7 linked regions of the Homo sapiens genome follow. The protein of the gene in region 3 interacts with the protein of the main gene of each other region in a biochemical or structural test. Each region holds a gene or a part of one and is shown on either strand. Other genes may lie near its edges. The genes, in order: PTPN3, ARHGAP21, ADGRA1, SNTG1, SNTG2, ARHGEF11 and DLG5.

What was found.
Region 1: the proteins of ADGRA1 (region 3) and PTPN3 interact in a test that uses a peptide from one of them, tested with the Homo sapiens proteins (one large-scale study listed by IntAct).
Region 2: the proteins of ADGRA1 (region 3) and ARHGAP21 interact in a test that uses a peptide from one of them, tested with the Homo sapiens proteins (one large-scale study listed by IntAct).
Region 4: the proteins of ADGRA1 (region 3) and SNTG1 interact in a test that uses a peptide from one of them, tested with the Homo sapiens proteins (one large-scale study listed by IntAct).
Region 5: the proteins of ADGRA1 (region 3) and SNTG2 interact in a test that uses a peptide from one of them, tested with the Homo sapiens proteins (one large-scale study listed by IntAct).
Region 6: the proteins of ADGRA1 (region 3) and ARHGEF11 interact in a test that uses a peptide from one of them, tested with the Homo sapiens proteins (one large-scale study listed by IntAct).
Region 7: the proteins of ADGRA1 (region 3) and DLG5 interact in a test that uses a peptide from one of them, tested with the Homo sapiens proteins (one large-scale study listed by IntAct).

The regions. Positions count from the first base shown.
Region 1 is NC_000009.12:109,421,590-109,425,791, reverse strand, and holds part of PTPN3 (tyrosine-protein phosphatase non-receptor type 3), read left to right. Parts: intron 1-2,939; coding exon 2,940-3,074; intron 3,075-4,202.
Region 2 is NC_000010.11:24,585,009-24,588,097, reverse strand, and holds part of ARHGAP21 (rho GTPase-activating protein 21), read left to right. Parts: intron 1-1,991; coding exon 1,992-3,089. UniProt on the Homo sapiens protein: Functions as a GTPase-activating protein (GAP) for RHOA and CDC42. Downstream partner of ARF1 which may control Golgi apparatus structure and function. Also required for CTNNA1 recruitment to adherens junctions.
Region 3 is NC_000010.11:133,086,404-133,091,154, reverse strand, and holds the start of ADGRA1 (adhesion G protein-coupled receptor A1), read right to left. Parts: upstream 3,232-4,751; 5' UTR 3,017-3,231; intron 2,448-3,016; 5' UTR 2,246-2,447; coding exon 2,243-2,245; intron 1-2,242.
Region 4 is NC_000008.11:50,701,907-50,706,108, reverse strand, and holds part of SNTG1 (gamma-1-syntrophin), read right to left. Parts: intron 1,536-4,202; exon of another isoform or gene 1,510-1,535; coding exon 1,357-1,509; intron 1-1,356. UniProt on the Homo sapiens protein: Adapter protein that binds to and probably organizes the subcellular localization of a variety of proteins. May link various receptors to the actin cytoskeleton and the dystrophin glycoprotein complex.
Region 5 is NC_000002.12:1,233,384-1,237,585, reverse strand, and holds part of SNTG2 (gamma-2-syntrophin), read right to left. Parts: intron 1-4,202. UniProt on the Homo sapiens protein: Adapter protein that binds to and probably organizes the subcellular localization of a variety of proteins. May link various receptors to the actin cytoskeleton and the dystrophin glycoprotein complex.
Region 6 is NC_000001.11:156,941,243-156,944,742, forward strand, and holds part of ARHGEF11 (rho guanine nucleotide exchange factor 11), read right to left. Parts: intron 3,192-3,500; coding exon 3,116-3,191; intron 2,861-3,115; coding exon 2,693-2,860; intron 1,539-2,692; coding exon 1,448-1,538; intron 748-1,447; coding exon 622-747; intron 192-621; coding exon 130-191; intron 1-129. UniProt on the Homo sapiens protein: May play a role in the regulation of RhoA GTPase by guanine nucleotide-binding alpha-12 (GNA12) and alpha-13 (GNA13). Acts as guanine nucleotide exchange factor (GEF) for RhoA GTPase and may act as GTPase-activating protein (GAP) for GNA12 and GNA13.
Region 7 is NC_000010.11:77,818,306-77,822,507, reverse strand, and holds part of DLG5 (disks large homolog 5), read left to right. Parts: intron 1-406; coding exon 407-1,426; intron 1,427-2,489; coding exon 2,490-2,613; intron 2,614-2,820; coding exon of another isoform or gene 2,821-2,903; exon of another isoform or gene 2,904-3,042; coding exon 3,043-3,187; intron 3,188-4,202. UniProt on the Homo sapiens protein: Acts as a regulator of the Hippo signaling pathway.

The sequences.
Region 1 (4,202 bases), on a different chromosome or scaffold from region 3:
ATCCACCCACCTTGGCCTCCCAAAGTTCTGGGATTACAGGCATGAGCCACCGTGCCCAGCCTATTCTCTCTTTTTTGTTTTGTTTTGTTTTGAGACGAAGTCTCACTCTGTCGCCCAGGCTAGAGTGATCTCGGCTCACTGCAACCTCTGTCTCCTGGGTTCAAGTAATTCTCCTACCTCAGCCTCCCAAGTAGCTGGGATTACAGGTGCCCACCACCACGCCCAGCTGATTTTTGCATTTTTAGTAGAGACAGGGTTTCACCACATTGGGCAGGCTGCTCTCGAACTCCTGACCTCAGGTGATCTGCCTGCCTCGGCCTCCCAAAGTGTTGGGGTTACAGGCATGAGCCACCGTGCCAGGCCATATTTTCTAAATCATTTGTTGGTTTTTCAAAATTGTTTTCGTGATTTGTTGTTGATGTGGCTATTACTAACTAAATGAGACCCGTGTCTGAGCCATTATCTTTCTGATAGGTGGAACTGCATCAGACTGTTCCAGTTACTTTCCTAATACATTGATAATCATTAGGGAACTTGTAAACTGAATAAGTAGCTAATTTCTGTTAGTATCAGTGATACTATTTGTGGTGCTAAATGCTATCTCTCAGCTTCTGATGAACCAAGAGTGAATATATTAAGTTTTTAGCTCTTATAATACTGTTTAGTATTTGTATACATTCAGTAGATCTACTGTTGAGCAAGCCATGAAAATAACTTACTGGATTATATCATTGACTTAGGTTGGGCCTGATCCTCAGGCCAGATGAGAGAAGGAATGGGGAGGCAACTGAAACCATGCCCTCTGTTGCTGAGCTGCCTGGGTTCAAATCCTGCCTCTGTCACTTGAGCTTTAATTTGTTGCTTCTATTTCTTCATCTGCAAAGCTTTGTCATCTGCATGCATCCAATGCCAGCAGGGCTGGGTTCTGGTCTTGTATTGTGGCACAAGAAAATACCCCTATTTTGGTGACTGAAAGCAACACCCATTCTGTTATATCTCATGACTTTGTGAGTCAGGAATCCTAGAAGGGCTTGGCCAGAGGCCTCTTCTGCTCTGTGTGGTGTAGATAGGGATTTCTCAGTGAATGTGGCCAGAGGATCCAAGATAACTTCTCTTGCATACCTGGTGTCTTGATGGAATGGTTGGAAGGCTGGACTCACCTGGACTCCTTAGCATCCCCATCTGGATACTCCAGGAGGGTGGTTGAATTTCTTACATGGACACTCAGGGTTCCAGGAGCGAAAGGCAGAACCGTTCAGCCTTCTTAAGGGTGAGACCTGGCACTGGCACAGCGACTCTGTTGCTGAAAGCAGTCACAAGCCAACCCAGATGCAAGACTCAAAGAACTTGCAGTCATCTTTAATCTGCCACAGGGGATCATTTGGGTTGGGAGGATGGCTTGGGAGGACAAGTCAGCAGTTCTTTTACTACCTGTGCCAGCTTCAGCATACTGGTGAATTTCAAGTCTCATTACCTCCATTTTACAGATGAGGACACTGAGGCTTAGAAGGGTCACATGACTTGCCCAGCCCCTAGAGATACAGATACACATCTGCTTATTGGGCCTTCTGAAAGGTTCCACATAAAAAGAAATTTGTTGGGTTATTTTCCAAGCTTATGGGACAATGGAACACTTTTTTTTCAGAGAGTCCCTATTAATAACCCATGACACATTAAACCTTGGAGTTGGGCAGTTTGCTCCCCTTGTTTTGATCCTGTGCTCTTCATCACTGGCAGTGTGGTTTCTGATGTAGGCCTGCCTCAGAGGAAAGAGTCTCCCAGTGATGCTGTTGTGAGCATTTTGATCAGGGTGACAACAGCATTTCTTAATGTGAATTAGTACATGATGTGCTACAGGGCGATTCATATTGTTTATGTTCTTTTGTTTGTTCTTTGTTCTGTTTTGTTTTTGTTGGTTGGTTGATGTCATGTCACAAGGAAATGTGTAGAATGTTTTCATAAGACATTAAATCCTAGTTTAAAATTTAGAGATGCCAGAACCAAAGTTGTCACCCTTTAACAGGGTGACAGGCTTCATGCTCTATTCTCTCAAATAATTCATTCTCTGAGGGGTCTAGATAGCTAAGATTTAAATTCTCTAGGTATAAATAAAATTCAAAAGTAACCTTCAGGGTAGCACATTTCAAAGAACGTAGCCTGAAACTCTGTATAATTTTTTGTTTTTGGAGACAGAGTCTTACTGTGTTCCCCAGACTGGAGTGCAGTGGTGCGATCTTGGCTCGCTGCAACCTCTGTCTCGGGGATTCAGGGGGTTCTCATGCCTCAGCCTCCCAAGTAGCTGGAATTATAGGCATGCGCCACTATACCTGGCTAATTTTTTGTATTTTTAGTAGAGGTAGGGTTTTGCCATGTTGGCCAGGCTGGTCTTGAACTCCTGACCTCAAGTGATCCACCCGCCTCAGCCTCCCAAAATGCTGGGATTGCAGGCATGAGCCACTGTGCCCAGTTTGAAACTACTTTCTAAGCGCATTTTCAGATTCTCTCTCAAAGATTTACCAGTGATTTATAGTGACAGCTCCTGCCAGCTAGGATGATGAAGAGCACCTGAAAAAATGGTTAATATTTTTACTTAGGCCAGTGTGAATAAAATAAGAATTCCTTGAAATCACTGGAGCTGTATTTCTGTGTGATCCTGGAATTCCTTCTAATCTGGTTAGGTTTGGTTATATTCTGGAAACAGCTTTGTTGCTTGAGTAGTGAGGACAAGAAAGGATTTTCACCCGAAGAGAAGAAATCACATAAGGAAATTCCAGGACAGACAGGAATCGCTTTTGAGCTGTCTCCCTCTACTCCCCATAACCTTGGCATTAACCTGCCGTCCTTCAGACAAGAAGCATGTGTAGACTGTTTCACACATGCAGTAATTTCTTTCCTGTTGAACGTCAGTGTAGAAAGTGAACCTGCATCTGGTTTTTCAGGTCGGTAAATAACCAATATTGCAAAAAGGTGATTGGCGGGATGGTGTGGAACCCAGCCATGCGGAGATCCTTATCAGTGGAGCACTTAGAAACCAAGAGTCTGCCTTCTCGTTCCCCTCCCATTACTCCCAACTGGTATGTCCTCCTTTTTTTTTTTTTTGTACTACCCAACAGTAGACACTTTATCTCTTTTAAAAATAAAAACTCAACTTATAAACTCCTAAAGATAGATGACCTACAATTTGCATTTTAGGCTCTTGGCAGAAGTAACTGTTTTCATGAAGTACACAAGTCTAGCTAAATGTTTTCCATCGTGTATAATGCTGAGATGCTCTTTTTAAAAAAACTTATTCAATCTAAATAGTTTGGGAAACTCGAGCCTGCTGAAAGGCCTCCTTTGGAATCACAGCACACATTAGCATATTAAACACTCTGAGACGTCCAATAATAAAAAAGTACGGTTAGCTTTACTTAATTCATGTTTTCCATTAATATCCCACAAAATAAACTTTAGGGAAAACTAACGCAGGTACGTGATGTAAATGATGTAAGGATGTATGACCTTCAGCAGCAGAAGCAAATGCACATCAGTAAGTAGCAGGCCAACTTAAGAGGATGGACTCAGCTTAAAAAGAAATAGGTGGTCGTTTGGTAAAGTGAGAAGGGCACTGGGTTTGTAGCAGAAAGACCTAAACTCAGGTTTTGGCCCTTCTGTTAATTAACAAGTTTCTTTACCTCTGTAGCCTCAGTTTCCCCATATCTAAAAAGATGATAAAAACTACCGCAAATGAAATAATAATGTACAAGTACGTAGTAAGCTTTTAAAAGAGTCAGGTGGAATTATCATTATCTTATTATAATGGTCCTCAAAGACATCACACCATTTTTGTGAATACCTCCAAAAAGGCTAGGGGCCAGAGGGGAAACCTAGCAGGGAATCATTGCCCCCAGCTCCACACTGGAGTAAGAGTGCGTGGCTGTAAATACCTGATCCAGGATCTGCTAAGCCTAAGAGAAACTGGGAGACAGGCAGACAGAGGAGATGCTGTGCTGGGCCTGCTAGGGAAGGACCCCTTCACTGGGGGCCTAATGCTCTGGGAAGGGACAGTGATAGTATTTAGTGTTAGAAATCATGACGTAACTGAATAGATTTGCTTCTTGGTTTCCAACATTTAGATACCTCATTCTAAAGAGGTAAATTTATGCTATAACACAGCAGCTTAATTTATCTGAAAATCTCATCGGCAGCAATGCCAGGGGCCC
Region 2 (3,089 bases), about 110 Mb from region 3:
TTCCTTGCATTTCTTTGTCAAATCTCTTTAGACTTCTTTAATCTAGAACAGTTTCCTTAACTCTGTTGCCAGCAGATGAGATTTTAAACCAGAGAGACCTGTTTGAAATCCCTGCTTTTCCCTTCTCTAGATGCATTTTTCTTAACCTGTTATTACAGTAGCCTTTTCATCTTATCCATAGTGGTGTTATGCTATGCCTGTAATATAGTGGATATCCCAATGACATGATTAACTACTTCTAACAAACAGTCTCTGTAGAAAAGTAGAGTAATTTGCCTCAACACATATATGATCATAGAATTGTAAAGAGAACCTTAAGGAAATCTGAAAGACAGTATAATCTAATTGCTTCTCGCCACGGAACTGAGATGTTTAAAAGTGAATCCCTTGCTCGTACCCAGCAAGCTAGAGAGGATGGACATCAAGGTCTCCCAATTGAGAGCCCAGTCACAACCATTATCCCCTACAGTCTTCAGCACAATGTGGGGAAATGTAAATAACCATTAGAAATGTGCTGGATAATTATGAAAGTCTTTATAACTTGTAAAAACAAAGTTCTGTTCATCTGTGATTTCATCTTAGCGAATTTTTGATAGAACAGCCTAAATTCTTTGATAGAACAGCCTAAATTTTTACTTTAAGACTTTAAATAGAGCAGTTTTAACTTGTCTAAGATTTGCAGGCAATAGAGAAATATACTGTCTGTTTCTATTACTCAGCATACCTCCTGCCTACCTGCTTGTCTTAAAAAGTGTGTGGTAAACCAGCAGATATTTAGGAAGAAACTAATAGTTGCAATCAAGAACCTATTATATCTAGATGCAGTGGCTCATGCCTGTAAATCCTGGCACTTTGGGAGGCTGAGGTGGGAGGATAGCTTGAGACTAAGGCTTCTAGACCAGCCTGGGCAACATGGTGAAACTCCATCTTAAAAAATTTTTTTTAAAAGAACCTATTATACATAGCAAATAACTTTCCCAATAACACTGCACTACAGTGTTTCTGTGGTAAGGATTTAATTGTACTTATGTTAATTGATCTTTCCTTTCTACCTTCCTGGGGTGGGTTCTCACTCTGTCACCCAGGCTGGAGTGCAATGGTACCCTCATGCTCACTGCAGCCTTGACTTCCCCAGGCTCAGGTGATCCTCTGACCTCGGCCTCCCAAGTAGCCAGGACCACAGGTGCGTGCCACCATGCCCACTTAATTTTTTGTAGAGACAGGCCTTCACCATGTTCCCTAGGCTGATCTCGAACTTCTGGGCTCGAGCAATCTGCCCGCCTCAGCCTCCCAAAGTGCTGGGATTACAGGCATGAGCCACCACACCTGGCCTGTTTTTTGAATATTCTAATTCCATTGTTACCTTGAGATAAATGAAGACATTACCAACCTGATTTACTTAAGGCAGATCCTTGAAGATCCTGCCTGAATGAACTAATGGAAGACCAGAGTTCCCTTATCTCAATGAGCTTATCTGATACAGTATCTATATCATGTGGTACCTGTAATTAGAAAAATCAAAGTCAGTCATAAACATTTAATAACCTATATCAGAATGTGATGTTTAATAACCTATATCAGAATATGATGTTTGACCGTGTCACAATATTGTTTTACCTATCCCATGCCTCTATTCCAAATGAAGGAAGTGAAGAATGCCTGGGCACTGTGGAAGGAGGGAAGGTCAGGTGTTTGGGGGATTTTGATAGGAATCAGCACTAAGCACAGACTATTTTCCTGAAAGGCAGATGTGTATGAGCTGTGGCTTGGCAGTTAAATACCACGAGGCAAGAAATTGGACTCATTAAATAAAAATTTGACTTTGGTTCAAGGTAAAAAGAGGTATTAAAAAAAAAGCTAATTGCACTGTTAATGCTTCCAGAGCTTTAGTAGATATAATTTGATAAGAAATATTTGGGAGACAAGCTTGTCAGAAAATGAACTCAGCTGCATTCTTATGCTCAGAGTCTTTCTTCTCTCTTGCTTCCCAGGGTTCTTGGGGATCTGGAAAGGATCAGTATAGCAGGGAACTGCTTGTGTCCTCCATCTTTGCAGCTGCTAGTCGCAAGAGGAAGAAGCCGAAAGAAAAAGCACAGCCTAGCAGCTCAGAAGATGAACTGGACAATGTATTTTTTAAGAAAGAAAATGTGGAACAGTGTCACAATGATACTAAAGAGGAGTCCAAAAAAGAAAGTGAGACACTGGGCAGAAAACAGAAGATCATCATTGCCAAAGAAAACAGCACTAGGAAAGACCCCAGCACGACAAAAGATGAAAAGATATCACTAGGAAAAGAGAGCACGCCTTCTGAAGAACCCTCACCACCACACAACTCAAAACACAACAAGTCACCAACTCTCAGCTGTCGCTTTGCCATCCTGAAAGAGAGCCCCAGGTCACTTCTGGCACAGAAGTCCTCCCACCTTGAAGAGACAGGCTCTGACTCTGGCACTTTGCTCAGCACGTCTTCCCAGGCCTCCCTGGCAAGGTTTTCCATGAAGAAATCAACCAGTCCAGAAACGAAACATAGCGAGTTTTTGGCCAACGTCAGCACCATCACCTCAGATTATTCCACCACATCGTCTGCTACATACTTGACTAGCCTGGACTCCAGTCGACTGAGCCCTGAGGTGCAATCCGTGGCAGAGAGCAAGGGGGACGAGGCAGATGACGAGAGAAGCGAACTCATCAGTGAAGGGCGGCCTGTGGAAACCGACAGCGAGAGCGAGTTTCCCGTGTTCCCCACAGCCTTGACTTCAGAGAGGCTTTTCCGAGGAAAACTGCAAGAAGTGACTAAGAGCAGCCGGAGAAATTCTGAAGGAAGTGAATTAAGTTGCACCGAGGGAAGTTTAACATCAAGTTTAGATAGCCGGAGACAGCTCTTCAGTTCCCATAAACTCATCGAATGTGATACTCTTTCCAGGAAAAAATCAGCTAGATTCAAGTCAGATAGTGGAAGTCTAGGAGATGCCAAGAATGAGAAAGAAGCACCTTCGTTAACTAAAGTGTTTGATGTTATGAAAAAAGGAAAGTCAACTGGGAGTTTACTGACACCCACCAGAGGCGAATCCGAAAAACAGGAACCCACA
Region 3 (4,751 bases):
TGTGAGGACTGCAAGTTACAGGGTGCGAAGTGACACCTATTTCATTTCGGAGCCTGCTGGAACGTAAGTCCTGATAGCACCCCTTGCGGAGACAGGCAAGTTCACATTTGCTTTTGCTCGTTAACAGTGGTGACGGAGACACAGCTTGCAGAAGGAGGTGCCCCAGCTTTAACCACTGGACAGGTGGCCTGCAGGTCCTCCAGAGGGGAGCAAACTGTCCATCCTGTAGAGCACCATGGGCCGACAAACCAGCCTTTTGAGAGGACGGCCTGGCCCAGCCAAGCTGCTGGACAGCAGCTCAGAATCCAGGGCTGACTCATGCCTTTGTGCCTGGCCAGGAGCGATGCCACCAAAGAATCTGACCTGTGACCTGTGCCCTATGCCCTTACACTTGGGAGCTCAGCAGGCAGCTTGCCCCTGGCAGGCGTCAGGAGCCCCCCAGAGCACAGCAGTGGGGCAGGCAGAGTCAGGGCCACCCTGCCCTGGCCACGGCCTCCAGGCTTCCTTCTCAAGACCCCATGGCCATGGGGTGAGCCTGCCCAGGTATCTACGCTGTGAACTTGGAGACACGTGCTGTGAATTACGCTGTCACACTACGCTGTGAACTTGGAGACACATGCAGAAAAATGCTGCACCAGACTGATGCAGCACGGGAGGGCAACTCCTCACACTTTCAGAGATTTTCTCAGGTGCAAATGTTACTTGTTGTGAATAAAAACAGTGAGCTGCTGAAATGCCACACTCTCCAGGCAGATCGAGCTCAGCAGGCTTTCACAGTCTTGGGTGAGCAGGAGCTCTGGGCTGCCAGGCCGGCTGGGACCGGGTGGCCCCGGGCCGAGGAGGTGGTAGCAGGAAGCTCCACCAGGAGCCAGGAGCTGAGAGGAGAGTGCACGAACAGGCTCAGCCTGCGAGGGGTGGTGCCCTTCTTGGATTGGGGAGGCCCCCGCACAGTTGTTCGCAGAAGGGCCAAGGGTTAGAGAGGAGGAGGCGAGGAAGGGGATGAGAGGGACCCCCGGGCTGCGGCAGCACCCCCACCTTCAGAAGCCCTTCTCCGTTCACTGTCCTCTGTCAATGACAGTTTTCCATTTTGCAAATAAGGGTCTCAATTTGAGGCTGAAAAGCCACAGATCCTGCCAACTGGGAGGCCTGGGGCTGCGCTGGGTGTGGTACCTGCGGGGCAACAGCGATGGTTCCTGAGGCTGGTGGGAGCCTGGGGGCAGGCAGGAGCCCTGGGGCTGGCCTGCTGCCCCCTGAGGTGCTGCTGGTGCTGGAGACGCAACCTTGTCAGGTGTCTGAAAGGTAAGTGCGGAGACCTCAGCCAGCCTCAGAGGTGAAGCAGCCACTGGAAGACGATACTGAATGTTGGCAAAGGCATCTCTCTTGCTTGGACATTTCGAACGGAACAAGAAGAAAATGAGCAAGTGACTCAGACCGATGGCTCCTTATGCAGCGAACACTGGGTCTGCTCCGAAGCACGCCAGCCGGCGTCTGTGGCGGCCGCACATTCTAGAGGCCATTGGCATTCTCTGCACGTGCCCTGGGTCCTCACCGCCTGTCAGCTGTCCCTTACCAGCACACACAATGCATTGTTCACTCAGCTGTCAGCCCTTCCGGAACCCAGACATTCAGCAACTGCAGCAAAAGCTTGCTGGTGCCTCAGGGAGGGACCCACGATGGGCTCGGCTAGCCGATCCAGCCAGCTGCCAGCCACGAGCCCCTTCCCGCTGAAACACCCTTCCCGTGCCTGCCGTGTGCGCGGCCGCCTTCTCTCCGCCACAGCCTCCACTGCTGAAGCCCACCTACGTCTGTCCGCACTGCCTTTCATCAACTTTCTAATGGGAAGGGGCCGGCAGGGTGGCGTGGAGGAGGCCGGTGACCAGGGTGGAGGGGCTTGGGGTGGCAGGGACCCCAGCCCAGGCACAGACCAGGTTTTCACAGGGCACGGATGCCAGCTTTGCGGGAGGGACGTCGCCTCCATTGATTAAATGATTCCACATTGCCATATGCCTGCAACTCATTAGTATGATCAGCACCCAGCACGCGGGGAGCAGAGGTGCCCAGACACGCGGCCTGTCCCCGGCCCCCACTCCACAGAGCCTCCCACCCCGGCACTGAGCCCGGAAGCCCGGTCACCAGCTCGCCATTCCACAACTTTTCCAGCCTGGGAGTCCCCATACGGGTGGCCGCCCCCCCGCAGCGGCCTAGCCCCCAGCTGCAGGACCCCCGGGACCCCCGTACTCACCATGAGCGCTGCAAAGTTGCGGAAGCGTGAGCGCCGCTGGAGGAGGCGTCCAGGGGGAGGCGATCAGGTGGCGCCCTGCTCCCCGCCAGCCTCCATGGCCTCTGGAAGGTCAAAGTCCCAGACGGCGGCCAGGAGGTCGCGCTCCCGGGCCCCTGGCCTCAGGGTGACCGCGGCGGGGCGGGCGCAGTCCGGGAGCTGCTCCCATCTGTGAAGACAGCGGCGGTCAGCGGGGCGGGCGGAGGGTCCCCGCGGAGGGCAGCTCGCAGCCCCGACCCCGCCAGGGAGCAGCCGCGGCCCCTGTCGCTCCCTCCCCTCCGCGGGCGGCCTGGGGGCTGCGCCTGGGGCTGGCGGAGGCGGTGCCGGTGGGGACCGGTGGGGGGCTCGGACCGAACGCGCCAGCGGCAGATGCGTCTCCTTCTCCATATTTAAAAATCAATCTGCGCCCCACTCCCGGCTCCGGAGCCAAACTCAACCATCTCGGGCTGCACAAAGCCAGAGGCGCGCCGGGGGGTTTGCACCGGGAACCGGCACCGAGTGACCCGCCCGCCCCAGCCCGGCCGCGGCGCCTGCTCTGCCTGGATGTGGCTCGAGCTCCGGGCCGGGCGCGCGGGGCGGGGGCCCTGGATTATCCGTGGCGCCTCCCGCCCCAGCGGAGCCGAAAGTTACTCGGAGCTGCTTTCCTCGCGGCCAGTGTCACCTCGGGGCGCGAGCTTTTCTGCCGAGCCGCGGCCCCGCGCGTCCCTCCCGCCGCCCAGACCCGCGCGTCCTTCCCACCTGCTGTGGCCGAAGCGGCTGCCGGGGCGGCCGGGCCGCGCTCCCGGAGACAGACGCGCTGCGCTCCCCCCGCCGGGGACCCGCTCTCCATTCGCGAGGGCAGCGGCCGAGCTGGGACCGAGTTATCAACAGATTGCGGGGCTGCGGCGCCGGCCGGTGAGTCACAGCCCCGCGCACGAGCGGCCCAGCCCGGCCAGCAGCGCCGCCGCCTCTGCGCGCACCTCCCGCGGCGACAGCGGGGACCCGGGGCCGGAGGCAGGCGCGTAACCATGGGGACCGGGGCGGGCGATGGCGGCGGGCGGGCTCCTGCCGCAGGGTGGGGATGGCTCTTCCAGCCGGGCGGCCGCCGTCACACTGCAGAGCGTATTTAAAGAGACACCTCGCTCCGCGCTCGCTCCCCAGCACCAGACCCTCGCCCGAAAACGCCGCCGGGCGGACTGCACGACCCTGTGTTATTCCCAAAGACAATCTCCATCCGTGGAGAAGCTGCAGGAACAGAAATATACACAAGAAAATGGATTTGGAAGGAATTTTCCATCCTTTATTTAACATTCTCAAGTCCAGATATGCCAGAACCGAGGTGCACCTGTCGTGAACCCGTCTGAGTGTGAGTCAGCAGGGCAGCCGCAGCCGGTGTAGACAGACAGGGCCTGTGGCTGTGCAGAAAGCGTCCCTGTCCCCCTACCCCAACCCTCCTGCATCCTGGGCCACAGAGCTGGGCATCCAGAGCCAAGGCGAGTGTGGAGGCCAGGGTGCCAGGGGCGGCGCAGCCCAGCCTCCCACCCGCAGCGAGGTTTGGGCTCTGCACACATCCCACAGGTCCCTATCCTGCCCCAAGGGGCCTCCTACCCGACAAGGTGGGTCCAAGTCCACTCCAGTTTTCGTCACAAACTCCGTTTTCTGGGGCACGTGCTGGCCTGGTGGCAGCCTCAGCAAGAGTCTCAGGAACTGCCCTGGGGGACTCCACACCCCTCCACCTGTTCCCCCTTTGGCCCTGGGTGACCCCACACCCCTCCACCTGTTCCCCCTTTGGCCCTGGGTGACCCCACACCCCTCCACCTGTTCCCTCCTTGGCCTCCACCCTTGCATGGCTACTTCTGCCCCAGGTTCTGTGACACTGGCGCCTGTTCAGGGGGTCCCCAGGCCCTGCTGCCATGGATTTTGAGGGGCCTGAAGGATGTACTATTGGGAGGTTGTCATGAAGACTCACAGAGGCAGAATTAGATGCAGGGGTGACAGCGTTCCGCTTCCCCGGCCTCTCATTATGGGGCTTTTGAGCGGGATGTGCTCAGGGCCCCACTGCCCCATCTAGCTGGTGTTCCCAGAGCCCCTCTGTGGGGACACTGTGCTGGTCCCTGAACTCCAGCTGAGGGACACAGGGTCCAGGCAGGCGACGGTCTAGTTCCCAGCTGGAGACGCTCTAGGCACCCCAGGACCTGGCCGCCCTGACTCCCTGGACACCGTTCCCTTGGAGCCTCGGAGCCCCCCCTGGTGTCCCCTGGGTGATGGTCCTGGACAAGAGGGCTGGGAAGAAGCGGGCAGCAAGGGGAGGATTCTGCCCCAGACGTCCCCAGGCCGGGGGTCCCCATGGGCTCTGCCCTGACGTCTTACTCCTGCACCCAGCGGCTCCCACCACAGAGACTGCTCCAGGTGAGGGTACCACACTGAGCACAGGTCAGCCTGTGTCTCCCGGGAGGCTCCTGGCACATCACAGTTGGGGCCCAGAGGAGGCCCC
Region 4 (4,202 bases), on a different chromosome or scaffold from region 3:
TAATGTCATACTGGTACAACTTGATGTGTTGATTACAGAGGTTTGTAGTCAGAAAATAGAAATCAGTTCAACATGTTCAAAATATATGTATCCAACAATCCTGTTTTACGCAAACATTCCAGTATAGTCAATGCTAGATTATTCACCACATTTGTTTTCAAAATTAAGTGTCCATGTGTGTATTTAGGTCCTTGCTCTATGGATCTATTTGCATGTGGCAAGCGCATGAAAACCTTTTAATTTGTCCACAGGTCTGTTTGAGGTCAGCCACAGGACCAACTTTGGGAGGCTGTTTTGTTCAATGGTCTTGTGAAGACAGAAGCTGAGGGCTCTATAAAGTTTGATCTAGTGTATAACTTCACACTTAAGAAACAAAGTTCAATAAATATCTGTTGAATACTCATGATGTGCAAAATGCACTGGACTTTGGTTGGCACATGATAAGATAATTCCAAACAACCTATAATTTAGTGCAGGGAATAACAAGCACATGTCACTGCAATACAAAACAGACTGAGTGTGTGCAATCCTTAAAAAAAAAAGACAAATAAATAGAAGAATCTTATAGATGCTGCTATAAATAAGTAGAAAACACAGTATAAATTTTATCACTAAACTACACTATTTTAAAATCTATTTCCTATATTGTATTTCTAATCAGATGTATTACTTTTATGATTTTTATTGTTGTATGTGTTAATGACTTCATGTAAAAATGTAATTGCTTTTCATGAGTAGTATGAATACAATTGATTAGTTTGTGTTTTCTTATCTGTAAAAAAACCAGAAAAGTACATTATATTGTGTTCAAAAGTGAGAAGAAGAGTTGTTTGAACAGGATAGTTGTAGAAGGAGTATTGGCAAGCATTAGGCAGGGTGGACTGGAAATCAGGGACATGTTCCTGGATGATATGACCTTTGATAAAAAGTCTCAAAAACTCTGTGTGGCTTTGAAGGATGGAGGCAAAGGGAAAGAGCATTGTGAGTAAATGACGCCAACAGGCTGGAAATTAGGAGGTCATATTTGGAGAACAGGAAGTGACCTTGTCAACAATTCATTAAATCAGAGTATTTTCTATATTAGATTTAAGTCAGAGTAATGTCTAATTAAAATTAGAAATATATTTTTAATTAGTAGTAGGAAATAGCCTGGAAAGATCAAGTCGTGGAAAAATTAAAATTTTATTCAGAGCTGTATTACTAGTCACTAAACAAAAATGGCTAATTATAGAATGTATATGAGGTCAAGATTCCCAGAACTGTATTTTTACACTACTTTGGAATGATATTAGAACTCTAGGGAAGTGGTCATGCATCTGAGGGAGCCACACATCCTGCAGTCCCACAGACTCTCACCTGTATCCGTTCTACTTCTAGAAAGGTTGCTGTCTGGAAGGCTCTTTCCCACTGGGCGAGGTCACTTTCCAGCTCCACTGAGAAGTACAGGTCCTCCCCAGACTCAGACTGCACGGTGAAGCACTGTTTCCGTCGGTCCAGCAGGTCACTGTCCTGGTGAAAACCTGGAGTTACACAGGCTGGCACACATCACTTCACATTGCTAACCTGGCCATTCCTGACTGGACCAAGGTGCAGAAGCCACAGGTAAAAAGACAACACTCTGCGAATTCACCAAGTCTTCATTAGACATTATACCAGAACTCCGGGCTTCAAAGCCCCAACACATGACTTCTCTGTCTTTACACTGAAGCATGTCCATAAAATAGAAGTTAGGGTTTCTGGCTTCATCTCTTACTAACAATATAACCACCAAAGCATTTAACATACAAGACTTGGTTTATTACTCTACAAAGGGGTGACACACTATCTCTTCCCTTCCTTACATAACTGTTATGATGTTGAAATTAAATAATGCTTGTGAACATGTTTGTAAATTTTAAGGAACTTTATAAGCAAACCAAAATATTCTTCTCCATGAGAAATGAAAAAGAAAATGAGTCTAATTTGTCTACAGCAATAATATTGCTTAAAAAAAAACGCATTATTTACCTTACTTGTGTAACTGTATTTCATTGTATCAAAAAAACGACTTTGATGCTGGCAATTTCTTGGTCTTACCAGAAGTTTTCAACTGAAGTGTTCACAAATTTACATATATTCCAATTTAAGAGACATTAACATGAGAAAAAAAAGTGAAGCAAATAATTTATGAAACAGAGTAACCCAATGCAACATGTCAGATATAGCATTTTAAATACAGTCATGTGCCGCATAAGGATGTTTGGGTTAATGATGAACTGCATATGCGACGGTGATCCTATAAGGTTATAAGGGAGCTGAAAAATTCCTATCCCCTAGCAATGTCATAGCCGTTGTAATGTCATAGAGCAATGCATTACTCTTGTGTTTGTGGTCATGCTGGTGTAAACAAACCTGCTGTGCTGACAGCTGTGTAAGTCTAGCACATACGATTATGATGTATGCTACATAATAATAATGATGATAAGAAAGAATATGTTACTGGTTTATGTATTTACTGTATTATAGTAATACAGTAAATATTACTGTATTTACTGTACTCCTATTTTTTTAGTGTACTCCTTCTATTTATTAAAAATATAGTTAACTATAAAACAGGCTCAAGCAGTTCCTTCAGAAGGTATCCAGAAGACGGCATCATTATCATAAGAGATGACAGCTCCATGCGTGTTATTGCCCCTGAAGACCTTCCAGTGGGACAAGATGTGATGATGGAACTCATCCTGACTATATGCAGGCCAAGGTTAATGTGTGTGTTTCTGTCTTATTTTTTATAAAAATTTTAAAAAGCCAAAAATAAAAAAGTAATTTGTAAATTTAAAAGTAGAAAAAAAATGTAGAGAATAAGGATATAGAATAATTTTGTACAGCTACATAATGTGTTTGTGTTTTAAGCTAAGCACTTCTACAAAAAAGGCCAAAGTTGAAAAAATTAACTTTGTAAAGTAAAAAATGTTACAGTAAGCTAAGCTTAGTTTATTATTGCAGAAAAAAATACTTCTTATAAATGTAGTGTAGTCTAAGTGCTCAGTATTTATAAAGTCTATAGTGCTGTATAGTAACATCCTAGGCCTTCACATTTACTCATCACTCATTCATTGACTCACCCAGAGCAACTACCATTCTGCAAACTCCATTCATGGTAAGTGCCCTGTATCTGTGTATCATTTTTTTTTTAAATCTTTTAGACTGTACTTTTACTTTACTTTTTCTATGTGTAGATGTGTTTAAACAACTACTTACCATTATGTTACTTTTGCCTACAGTATTCAATACAGTCATATGCTATACAGGTGTGTAACCTAGGAGAAATAGGCTGTACTGTATAACCTCGCTGTGCAGTACGTTATGCTGTCTCAGGTTGTGCAAGCAAATTCTGTGGTGTTTGTACAACAGTGGAACCATCTAACTGAGAGGCATTTCCTGAAATATATCTCAGTTATTAAATGACTGTATATATGCTATATCTATGCAGTGTACTGAAAATTGTCAAAGGGTTAATCACTGGTATCTGTAATCATTTCTCATAAGGAGGGATGTAAGTGTATCATTATTAAACACCCAAAATGTTAGATGGAATTCTCTGCTTTGGCAAATGTTTAAAAAATAATAACTATTTTCATTGTTTCCTGCTTGCATTCTTATAATTGCTGGAAGAGAGCTAATGGAAGGCATTTACTTCCAGGGTTGTAGAATTTAGCTCTGACCCTTGCTGCCAGTAGATGCTCAGAAAGCTAAAAGGATGATAAATGCTGTGCTTATTGATTTTCCTACTCTGTCTGAAGGGAGAAAAAAATGAAAACATAATATGTTTGAGAGTACAATCTAATGATAAATTATAAATACTTTTTAGTAGTTTTGGGGTTATAATATCTATGGAGGGAACAATGAGAGATAATAACTACACAAGTAAATATATTAGTACAAATTATTGTAAATGCCATTATAAAAAAAATAAGAGGCTGGGCGCAGTGGCTCATGTCAGTAATCCCAGCAATTTGGGAGGCCGAGGTGGGCAGATCACTTGAGGTTGGGGAGTTCCAGACCAGACTGTCCCACATGGTGAAACCCCATTTCTAATAAAAATACAAAAATTAGCCGGACATGGTGGTGCATCCCTGTAATTCCAGCTACGTGGGAGTCTGAGGCAGGAGAATCACTTGAACCTAGGATGAGGAGGTTGCAGTGAGCCAAGACTGTGCCAC
Region 5 (4,202 bases), on a different chromosome or scaffold from region 3:
TTTCGAAGACCCTTTGGATGGAGCACTTAAAGCTCCTGATGGGGTGAGGCTGGAGCAGCCCAGCACCCTCTGCACTCAGCATCCACCCTTCTCTAGGACCACCTGTGTGCTTCTGATTGACAGGGGAGCTTTGGGAGAACATAGTCCCCTTCCACTGCTCCATGACACTCCACTTGCTGAGAACTCAATCATGGCAAAGTATTAACAACCAACCGTCTCAAATTCAGTAGTTCTTCCCTGTCATGCAATATTTTTTAAAAACATACTTTACATATGCCTATTTGCAAAAGAGAAATGTCATGTACACTTTTATAGACTTTTTCTTAAGAAAATAGTGCATATTGGCCGGGCGCAGTGGCTCACGCCTATAATCACAGGACGTTGGAAGACTGAGGTAGGTGGATCACTTGAGGTCAGGAGTTCGAAATCAGCCTGGCCAACATGGTGAAGTCCCATCTCTACGAAAAATACAAAAATTAGCCGGGCATGGTGGCACACACCTGTAGCTCCAGCTACTCGGAAGGCTACGGCAGGAGAATCTCCTGAACCCAGGAGGCAGAGGTTGCAGTGAGCCGAGATCACACCACTGCACTCCAGCCTGGGCAACAGAGTGAGACCCTATCTGAAAAAAAAAAGAAAAAAAGAAAACAATGCATATTAATGTATATGACTCATAATACCTCCATGGTCTCAAGCAGCTAACTGAAGATAAAATACAGAACAAAGCAAACATATTTTTTTAAAAAAATAAGTCATCACTAAGCTATGTTCTAATAATCTTTCAAATGTGAGTGTCATCGCTGCTTTCTTAGGCAAGGTGGGGTGTGTAGGAGAAGGGGTAGGAAACAGAGATGGTATAACACAGTTCTGCATATTTTTGAGCCAAATCTATCAGACCAGAGTTTGCTATTTTAAAAGTCATTCTTTTAAAAAGCTGACATCCCTGTCTAGGGGTCATTCTCATTCTAATTAGTGTTTCTTGAATCAGAATGTGAGGTTTATCTACTTGTGGCTGATATTCTGCCTGATGGCGATGAACAAGGTACTCTTGACTTGGCAGGAGGACAGAGGTGAAGGTGGAGGTGACTGTGTGGAGCCGGAGAGGGGAAGAAGCCAGAGGAAGCAGGTCCCCTGCATGGGGAGGGCAGGCAGCTCTGCCTCCACCTTCGCACAGCCCTTTCTGATCACCTTTCCTGGTCCTCCTGGGGAGCACCTGTCCCTCAGGATCCATCGCTTCCCGTGGGGCCTTTGGTCCTGGATGTCTGCTATAATAAATTAATTTTTACACTTCAAAATGCTGGGAGACTATTTTAGGCAGATTGTGTAATATTCCACATGAATTAGGTGCTTATTAAATATTGACAGACTTATATCTACACTTTTGTCCAAGTATCCATTAATTCTTATTAAAGTAAGTGCTAACTAAAAATGGGTTCATTGCCATCATTTCTCATTTGTTCATGTTAACTGGTGCGACATATACAAAGCAAGGCTGACCTTAATCTAGTGGTTAATAAACAGCTGGGTCAAGTAGATTATTGCGGACGACAGCCAAGTTCCCTGGCTCCCCACATGAAGAGGTCAGAGACTATTATTTTTAGGCATATTTTACATTGAGCTACAGGACACACACACACGCACACAACTCACCAGTGAACACCTCGATAAACAGTCATGTATTCCATACTCTTGGCCAACCAACTCTCAGACCAAAAACAGACTTTAGAAGAATCCTCAAAAGTTCCCTGTGTCCCATCCTCCAATTTTCCCCATCTCAGAGCTCTACGCTTTTATTCTTTCAGAAGAGCCTGTTCTTCTCCAAAGGCCTGGGGAGGAACAGGGGGTGGTGCCAGTGTGGGCCAGGGGCAGCTTTTCCTGGATCCAGCTAGACTAGGGGGCCTGCAGGGATCCTGGGGCAGCGTGGGGGTAAGGGTGCCTCCTCTCATGAATCGGGGGTGCCTCGTGGGGCCTGCAGGGACCTCAGGGCAGCGTGGGGCAGGGGTCCCCCCTCTCATGAATCGGGGGTGCCTGGTGGGGCCTGCAGGGACCTCAGGGCAGCGTGGGGCAGGGGCCCCCCTCTCATGAATAGGGTGTGCCTGGTGGGGCCTGCAGGGACCTCAGGGCAGCATGGGGTAGGGGCGCCCCCTCTCATGAATCGGGGGTGCCTGGTGGGGCCTGCAGGGACCTCAGGGCAGCGTGGGGCAGGGGTCCCCCCTCTCATGAATCGGGGGTGCCTGGTGGGGCCTGCAGGGACCTCAGGGCAGCGTGGGGCAGGGGCCCCCCTCTCATGAATAGGGTGTGCCTGGTGGGGCCTGCAGGGACCTCAGGGCAGCATGGGGTAGGGGCGCCCCCTCTCATGAATCGGGGGTGCCTGGTGGGGCCTGTAGGGACCTCAGGGCAGAGTGGGGTAGGGGCGCCCCCTCTCATGAATCGGGGGTGCCTGGTGGGGCCTGCAGGGACCTCAGGGCAGCATGGGGGCAGGGGTCCCCCCTCTCATGAATTGGGGGTCCCTGGTTGCGCGTGAGGGCGTGTGAAGGACACGCATGGTCACCGCTTGGCTCCAGCTCACATGTACTAACGACAGTGTCTTCTCAGGGAGTTGGCATTTCCTGATTCTCAGGGTTGGTGACGTATGCACCAAATGCATGGATGACTGAACACTGGGTGCTCTCAGCAGGGTCAGTACTGTGGTCATCCTCGTAAAGTCAGTGGTGAGAAGGAATCTGAGTCCAGAGTCCTAACTCTGCCTTTGGAGGTTTACACCATCATTGATGTAGCAGGAATAAGATGTGAGTAGAGACAGTGGACCCAGGCTCCATGAAGGACCCTTTATCGATGCTGTGGTCTTGAGAAAGATCATCAGCTTTGCCCCCTGAGGCAGTGAATGCACGTGGAGCCCCAGAGGCTCACGGACTCGCACGAGGGGCAGACGGCTGTGTCCTGCAATAAAAAGGAAGGCGTCTGCAGTCCAGGCACGTTTATGCCATAGCTTCATGAGGCAGGCTGGACATCTCACCTCTGAGCTGGGCTTTCCTTGTCCGTACGATGGGCTTCAAATGCCAACCGTACCACAAAATAGGAATACTGAGAGGAACAAATGGGATAACTGAAACAAAGTTATTTGTAAGCCCGTAAGTACCATATAAACATTATTAGTCTGTAATTTATCAAAGAAAGCAATAAAAATTAAGTATCAAATGAACAGAAACTGTGAAAGTTGTTGACATGAATGCTGATGGCAGATACTAACATGTTAATGAAACAGGGAAAGAAAGTTCACAGCGTGGCTCACTGTTGGTTCACTGTTTGGTTTATTGTTATAGAAGCCGGGTAACTAGTGTAAGTCACGCAATCTGCTTTCAGGCACGTCTGGATGCAAGATCAGGAGCCGCTTCTTCCAGGGCATTTCTGGGCCTTTGTTTCCTCCGAGTTTCACGGTTTCCTCCGAGTTTCCTCCGTGGCTCACAGTTGGAACCCGGCCTCTCTACCCGCCTCATGGTGGCCGCTCAGGCCTTTTAGGATGGTGTTCACGTGGCCAAGGTCATTATCGGAGCTAAAATTCACAGAGCATCTGCTGCTCAGGAGCTAACATGCTCTTTGATGGACACACATGAGATTGTAGGAAGCTGCTGTAAGCAAAGCCACACCAAGTGAAGGCAGAGCGCTTGGCACCCCGGGGTCCACCGAGAAGAAACCAAACCAGCTCCCAGACACTCGCCATCCATGGGGAAGTCAAGCACTGACTGTGTCGGCACTTTTGAAAAGTCTACCCTCCTCCCAGGGTTTCCTCGTGCCCTTAGAGAATTTTTCAATTCCAAAGAGAAAACTGAAAATAGACTTATACTCTAGAAAGTGAATCAATTCAGTTTTTGGCTAAGAGAAATAAATTTATTCCAATAACGTTCAAAGCACATGTCTTAACGTATTAGGACATTAAGGAATTGAAGTTACGTGCTCAGGTCTCCACCTCCTGTGGAGGACAGCCAGTCTGTTTAAGCCGTTCTTCCTGCGCTCTTGACTGTGGGCTCAGTGCCAGCCTCAACCCTGCACCCTGCGGCTCCTGCCGGGAAAAGCCCCACAGCCCAGCTCTCATGTGCCCGGTCACACTGCCTGCCTTCGCTGCGGTCTTCCTGTCCACATGCAGAAAGGCCTCCGAATCCCGCCCACACCGCTGGGAATCTTCCTGTCACAAAACACACCTC
Region 6 (3,500 bases), on a different chromosome or scaffold from region 3:
TCTACTCTTTATCAAAACCTCACACCCCGGGCCCTGATGGACTCTCCCATCGCCCCCATACTCACACCCAACCTGTGCCTACAGAAAAAGGCCTGGGCTGGCTCCCACAGGACAGTTCAGGGCCCTTACCTCCAGGCAGCTCCTCAGGTTCAGGTTCACCATGGAACACGTCTGAGTCATCCAGTTCTACCCTGAGGAAGGAAACCAACACAGGATGAGATCCCATGAGATTCCACCCTGGACTCATGCATTAGAATGGGCAATGGAGTAGGATCCGAGAAGGACGGTGTGGGCCTCTTCACCTGGCTGGTCTGCTTGGCAACCCAGAGAGGAGGGGGGCTGCTAGCTGAGCTTCTCTGGTCCCTTGCTCTACATCCCCCTCACCCTTCTTCAGGCTCAGCTCTATTATAGCCAGGTGGCAGGCTGTGGGGGAGCAGACAGGGACAAGAAGCAGGGACAGGGGGCATGTTCCTCCATCTGCCAGCACTTGGAGCTGTCTGCTCCCTGCTAGCATTTCCCTGTTGTGGCTGTCTACCCACGGGGGCGAAGGGCTTAAAAGCAGCAGGAAACAGGAGGTTTGGAGTGGAGAGAGTGCAGGGTCTGGAGGGCTAAGCACTGCACCTGCTGGGTGTGGGGCCCTGCTGGGCTGGCTCCCGGGGACCTGGGGGTGGAGGATGGACGGGCATTGGGGCAGCTCCGGGGTGCCTGGTGGCATTCCGCACGGCCTCTTCTAAGAGCTCCATCCATCTGTTGCTCGGCAGGAACAGAGAGGACTGTAGTGAGAGCAAGATAGCAGCACGCACCACCCCGTACTGAGCCCACTGGAACAGGGCTTCCAGGCCCTAAGAACCCTCTGCCTGGCAGGTGCCCACCTCCCTGTACAGTCCTCCCTGGCTGCTCCCTTGCGGTTATATTACTTGCAGCTACCAAATCCTGGACACCAACCCTCTGTTACACTCTGTGCAAAGCATTCTATGTTTTCCCTCTAAAGTAATCCTCTAACAGGTAGCATTAGCCACATTTTACAGATGAAAACCCTGGAGTTGGGAAACAGTCTGACTCAACCTGTCTCCTTCCACTGTACCATGCCACCTCTGGCAGCTGCTGTCAAAGAACATGGGCTGGGTGGGAGGCAAATGCCTGAGAAGGATGCATGAATCTAATCTGCCTAATGGTGAAGGGAGTAGGGCAGGAAGGAAAGAAGCAGCAGCAGCGGCTGGAAGACTGCCAGAAGCTCATTCTCCCAGAAGCGGGCCTGGTGACCAGGTCGGGGGTGATGACCCCTCCCAGCTTCTCTACTTCTGTCCTACCTCCCACTTCCTTCCCAACCCCTTGTCCAGGGACTGCTTTGGGGCCCAAACCTGGCCTTGCTACCCACTGTCCTCATAAACACCACCCTGGTCCGAAAGGGACCACAGTTACGGGTAACCCCTCAATCAATTCTCACGTGTTCTTGTCTGATGACGTCAATGCAACCAGCTCATAGATCTGGGGTGGGCCCAGCTTGGAGGTGCAGATGATGAAGAAGGCCCGTTTATCTGTGTGAGGAAAGGAAGGTAGAAGGGTCTGTACTAGGGATGGCAGGTGTGACTGCAGCCTGGGCCAGGGTGACAGAGTGGGACTCAAAGCCCTGACCCTCAACGCAGATGGAGAGTGCAGCACGAGACAGATGTGGATCTTCAGGACCACTTGGAACCCACTTACATAAGGGACAGAGGAAATTCCAGGACCCCTAATGTCATCTTCCACAGCCACCCCCATTCCTCTCCTGCTCTAATAACAGTGATGGCTGATAGGTGTATGGTGCTTAGGAGTTATAAAACTTTTTTTTTTTTTGAAACGGATTCTTGCTCTGTCACCCAGGCTAGAATGTAGTGGTGCCATCTTGGCTCACTGCAACCTGCGCCTCCCGGGTTCAAGTGATTCTCCTGCCTCAGCCTCCCGAGTAACTGGAATTACAGGTGCCTGCCAACATGCCTGGCTAATTTTTGTATTTTTAGTAGAGATAGGGTTTCACCATGTTGGCCAGGCTGGTCTTGAACTCCTGACCTCAAGTGATCTGAGTGCCTCGGCCTCCCAAAGGGCTGGGATTACAGGCATGAGCCACAGTGCCTGGTCAAGGGTTTATAAAACTTTTTCATACCCGTCATCCCTTTTGATGCCCACAAGAGGTAGGGTAGGTATCACTCCTATCTTACAGACGAAGAAAGTGAATCCAGAGAATTTTGCTCCAGAGCCCTTTCTCACACACACTACACTTCTCATTGAAATGTCCCTGTCCACTGGACCCAGCTCTGTACCGTGGGTACTAACATCTTCTGTAACCAAGCTCTGCCCAAGTCACTCTGTAGCAGAAAGGCTTGTCCTACTCATTCTGCCTAATCCCATTCTTCCCAATCCTGCTCAGACACTCTCACCCATCCTGGGTGTGCACATCCCATCCAGCACTGTGCTTGGGGACTGCTGACCACCCCTGTGCCAGGTTGTCTGTCTTCCTCTTGGTCCCCATCCTAACCCTCATCCTACCCCACTTTGGGCCAGTCCTACCACTTAGGCTGGGTCAGGACAGGAGGAAAGGAACACAGGTGGACAGGTAGGTCCTGTAAAGGCTCCAGACTGGCCCTGCCTCACCCAGCACTTGCTGGACATGGTCCCTGAGCCCCAGGCCAGCCTGGACCATCTCCCCAGGTACCTGTGGCCACAGAGCGGATGAGCACAGCATTGAGCTTGAGCACGGGGCTGAAGGTCTGCTTGCTGTCTGAGGAGCCCACAGCAGTCTTGCTGTGGCACTTCAGCAATAGCTTCTCATCCTGTTTCTGTAGCAGCACTAGGAGGTCCTCCAGCAGCAGCACGTGGAGGTCTGGAGGGGTATGGTCATGGGAAGGTGTTCCCTGGTGCCTACTCATCCCTCATGAGCACAATGCAGGGCCACAGGCTCTTGGAGGCTCTAGGAAGTCCTGGGAGTCTGGTGACCCCATTTCTCTCTCTGATTATTCCCTTCCCATGTCCTGAGCTATCACCTCCAGTCATGTTTCCATGCTTGGGAAAGACAGAAGAGCCCAGGGAGGCCCACCCACTACAGGTTCCTGCTCAGTCCCAGTCCCCTGGCACATACCCAAGGTCTTATCCTTGCTGATCCTCCAGGTCAGGGGTCCCTCATGGATCATTTTTCTGGTTGTAAGATCCAGGCTCTGTTAAGGAGACACCATTCATTCATTCATTCATTCATTCATTCATTCAAGTGTTTGAGAGCCTACTGTGTGCCAGACATTGTGTTAAGGTGCTGGGAATTGGTAAATAAGAAAAAGTCCTTGCCCTTACTCTCTTGTGCGGGATGAAGACAAGCAAAAAGGTAACTGTGAAGTCATGTGCCATGTGGCAGCAGGGGGATATACCAATGGCTCTGACTTGGGTCTCCCACCTGCCCCTACCACGTGCCAGCTACAGTCCCAAGAAGATCACATACTGCTTTTCCTGCCCATGCCTCCAGCTCTATTCCC
Region 7 (4,202 bases), about 55 Mb from region 3:
CGTGCCTGGCTTATTTTTGTAATTTTTGTATAGATGGGGTTTCACCATATCGGTCAGGCTGGTCTCGAACTCCTGACCTCGTGACCCGCCTGCCTCAGCCTACCAAAGCGCTGGGATTACAGGCATGAGCCACTGTGCCCGGCCCAGATAATTTCAGAAAGTGTTCAAAGTTAAGAAAACTTTGACTCTTCTTTGAGTTCAGAGTGACCAGAGCCATGAGAAAACTTATCCATTAGGGAGAAGCATATGTGTTCATGTGTGTGTGCATCTCTGTCTATCTGTCTCTTTTTTAAGGGGCAGGTGGCCCATTCCTGACCATTGCTTTACCTCTGGGGATGGTTTTCAGTGGCAGCTCCAAGTCCTGCCATCTCACTCTCTCTCTCACTCCTCTGCAATCCCTGCCTAGGTATTCCCTCAGAGCTCCTCGTGGAGTGGCCAGAACATTTTTGAAAATATCAAAGACTCTGATAAGATGCTGAGTTTTCGAGCCCATGGCCCGGAGGTCCAGGCTCATAACAAACGGAACTTGATACAGCACAATAACTCCACGCAGACAGACATCTTCTACACGGACAGGCTGGAAGACAGGAAGGAGCCAGGCCCCCCAGGAGGCAGCAGCTCCTTTCTGCATAAGCCATTCCCTGGGGGACCCTTGCAGGTCTGCCCCCAGGCCTGTCCCAGTGCCTCTGAGCGTAGCCTGAGCTCCTTCCGCTCAGATGCCTCTGGGGACCGTGGCTTTGGGCTGGTGGACGTGCGTGGCCGGCGGCCACTGCTGCCCTTTGAGACCGAGGTGGGCCCCTGTGGGGTTGGGGAGGCCTCCCTGGACAAGGCAGACTCTGAAGGCTCCAACAGCGGCGGGACCTGGCCCAAGGCCATGCTCAGCTCCACGGCAGTGCCTGAGAAGCTCTCTGTTTATAAAAAGCCAAAGCAAAGAAAGTCCATCTTTGACCCTAACACTTTCAAACGCCCCCAGACACCCCCCAAAATAGACTACCTGCTTCCAGGTCCTGGGCCTGCTCACTCTCCCCAGCCCTCCAAGAGGGCGGGGCCTCTGACACCCCCAAAACCTCCCAGAAGGAGCGACTCCATTAAGTTCCAGCACAGGCTGGAGACTAGCTCCGAGTCAGAAGCCACTCTGGTGGGCAGCTCCCCATCCACTAGTCCCCCGAGCGCCCTGCCCCCTGACGTGGACCCCGGGGAGCCCATGCACGCATCACCCCCTCGCAAGGCCAGGGTCCGCATTGCTTCCAGCTACTACCCTGAAGGAGATGGGGACTCCTCCCACCTGCCGGCCAAGAAATCCTGTGATGAGGACCTCACCTCCCAGAAGGTGGATGAGCTGGGGCAGAAGCGTCGCCGGCCAAAATCTGCTCCCAGTTTTCGGCCGAAGCTTGCTCCAGTAGTGATTCCTGCTCAGTTCCTGGAGGTATAGCTGAGCCCCAGGGTGTGGGGAGGGGAGGCCTAGAGAGGGGCAGTTGGCCGAAGGAGGGCTGCTAAGTGGCCCTGCACCAGTGTCCCAGGCCCCTGTTTAGCCTGGTGCCTTTGCCTTTGCTGTTGGACTCAAGTGGGAAGTGGCCCAGCTAGGAGGTAGGTAAGTGGCGTGGAAGTGCATGGTAGTGGGAGTGTGACACAAGAGGGGAACACTTTATTGGGCATAGCATTTGGTTTGCTTTTTTAATAAGAAGCTTTTGAACTTACACAATAAAACCTAGGGCATAGACTTGCCTTGAAGGGCTAGGGAGATGAGGTGGCACGTGTGAGGCTGAGTGGGCAGCGGGACGGCCTGATTGCGTGTGCTGTCATAGTTTCCAGAAGGGTGAGATTGCTGGGGACTGTGGAAAGCATCTCAGGCACCAGTCCACACTGCTCACTGGGGACAAAGAGCTTCGCACAGCCCTCCACATCGGGCAGAGTTGTACGTGCCTGATGCACTTGTGCATTCTCACCTTTTACGTGATCTCTGTGAAAGATTCATTCTCTGTGGTTTTCTTCTGAAGTAAAGCTGCTTCCTTGAAGATGTGTAAGGCAACATGAATGGGCAGCGTTCCCATTCATGTCCCTTCCTGTGCCCCAGTGGGAGGAGCTGGTTCCTGGGGGGCAGAAACTGGCTTGCAGAGCTGCTCAAGCGTTCCACTGTTTGGTTTTTTTTTTTTTTTTCCCCTAAGATGGAGTCTCACTCTGTCACCCAGGCTGGAGTACAGTGGTGCAGTCTTGGCTCACTGCAACTTCTGCCTCCCGAGTTCAAGCGATTCTCCTGCCTCAGCCTCCCAAGTAGCTGGGATTACAGGCACCCACTACCATGCCCAGCTAATTTTTGTATTTTTGGTAGAGACGGGATTTCGCCATGTTGGCCAGGGTGGTCTTGAACTCCTGACCTTAGGTGATCTGCCCGCCTCGGCCTCCCAGAGTGCTGGGATTATAGGTGTGAGCCACTGCGCCTGGCCACACTCCACTCTTTCTAGCAGACACTCTTGCCCTTGCATCTGCAGGAACAGAAGTGTGTCCCGGCCAGTGGAGAACTCTCCCCGGAGCTCCAGGAGTGGGCACCTTACTCGCCTGGGCATTCCAGCCGGCACAGCAACCCCCCGCTATACCCTAGCAGGCCGTCTGTGGGTGAGTCAGCCAGCCAGGGGCTGGGGCTGAGGGTCGGTGTAAACTCGGGATGCCTAGTCTCCAGGGAGAGGGGAGGCAGCATTTCAGAGAGCTGCCATGTGTTTTCAGCCCTGAGGTCCAGAGAACTGGGAAATGCTGTCCTGTCTGGGATGGTTTGTCTTATAGCCATGACATGTCTTAGCTTGTCAACATGCTTTCTCCCCATAGCAACCTGGGAAATAGGAAGCATGAAAGAGACTTCCCCCCTTTTTACAAATGGAGACAGGCCAGGAGCCACAGCCACATTGTGAATTGGTGGTTAAAACTCATCTCCCAAGTCCTTTTCCCAAAAGACTGCGGCTGCGTCCTGGGATACAGGGGAAAGGCTTGTGTAAGTCCTGGGCTGGCTGGGTCCTTTGGGGCGTCTTTTCTCACCAAGCCCATTTCTAGGCACTGTTCCCCGGAGTTTGACCCCCAGCACCACTGTGAGCTCCATCCTGCGGAACCCCATCTACACTGTGCGCAGTCACAGGGTCGGCCCCTGCAGCTCTCCACCTGCGGCCCGAGATGCTGGCCCCCAGGGTTTGCATCCCAGGTATGTGAAGGCACCCTACGCTTCTCTGTACTCCAGCTGCCCAAGCCTGCCTGGACATGGAACCATGAGTGCATAAAGAGGCTCATTGGTGGAGAAGCTTCCTTGCCTGCCTGGGAGGGGACTGGCTAGAGCAGCACAGGGAAAGGGAGCCTTAGGGCTGCTTTCTGAATTCATCAGCACAAGGTTTCAAAAGGTACTGGAAGGACACGATAGTGATAGCAGCTGATGTTTGAGTGCTTATGTCCCAGCCACTGTGCTCAGACCTTTATGAATATCATTTCACCGAATCAACAGCAACCTCATGGGCTAAGTCCTATTACTGTTTCTGTCTTGAAGATGAGGAAACTGGTACTTCATAAGAGGGTGGGCTGGCTCCAAGCCACTCTTATTCATTCATTTGACAGATATTTTTTGAGCACCTACTACATGCCTTGGTCTATCCTAATTATAAGAGGATACATTGCTGAACTAAACAAATTAGCTTCTAGCTCATGTCGTGTGGTTTTTCAAATGTGGGAGGCAGACAAAAAAAAAAAATGAACGAAGTGATATCAGATGGTGCCAAGAGGCTATGAAGGCAGTCAAACAGGGTGACAGGCTGGGCTGTAACTTGGAAGAGGGTGGCAAGTTAGAGTGGGTGGTCAGGAAGGGCCCTGTGGCAGAGGGGATGCTGCTGTGACCAGAAGGATGAAAGAGGCCAGCTGCACAAGACCTGGGCTGGAGCCTCCAGGGAGAAGGGCCATCGGTGCCAAGGCCAGGGCACCCAGGCACAGTCGTGGGAGCTTGTCAAAGGGGCAGCGAGTCAAGAAGAGGTTTGAGGTCACAGGGCACAAACCCTGTGGGACCTGCAGCGGTGATGAAGAGTTTGGATTTTATTCTAAGGACAGTGGAGACCACTGTAGAGTTTAAGCAGGGAAGAGATGTCACCTCATTACATAGCTGGAAAAAGATGCTGTTGAGGCCTGGTCTCAGGGCAGCCTGATGTGGGCGATCCCTGCTCTGCCCTTCATTTTCT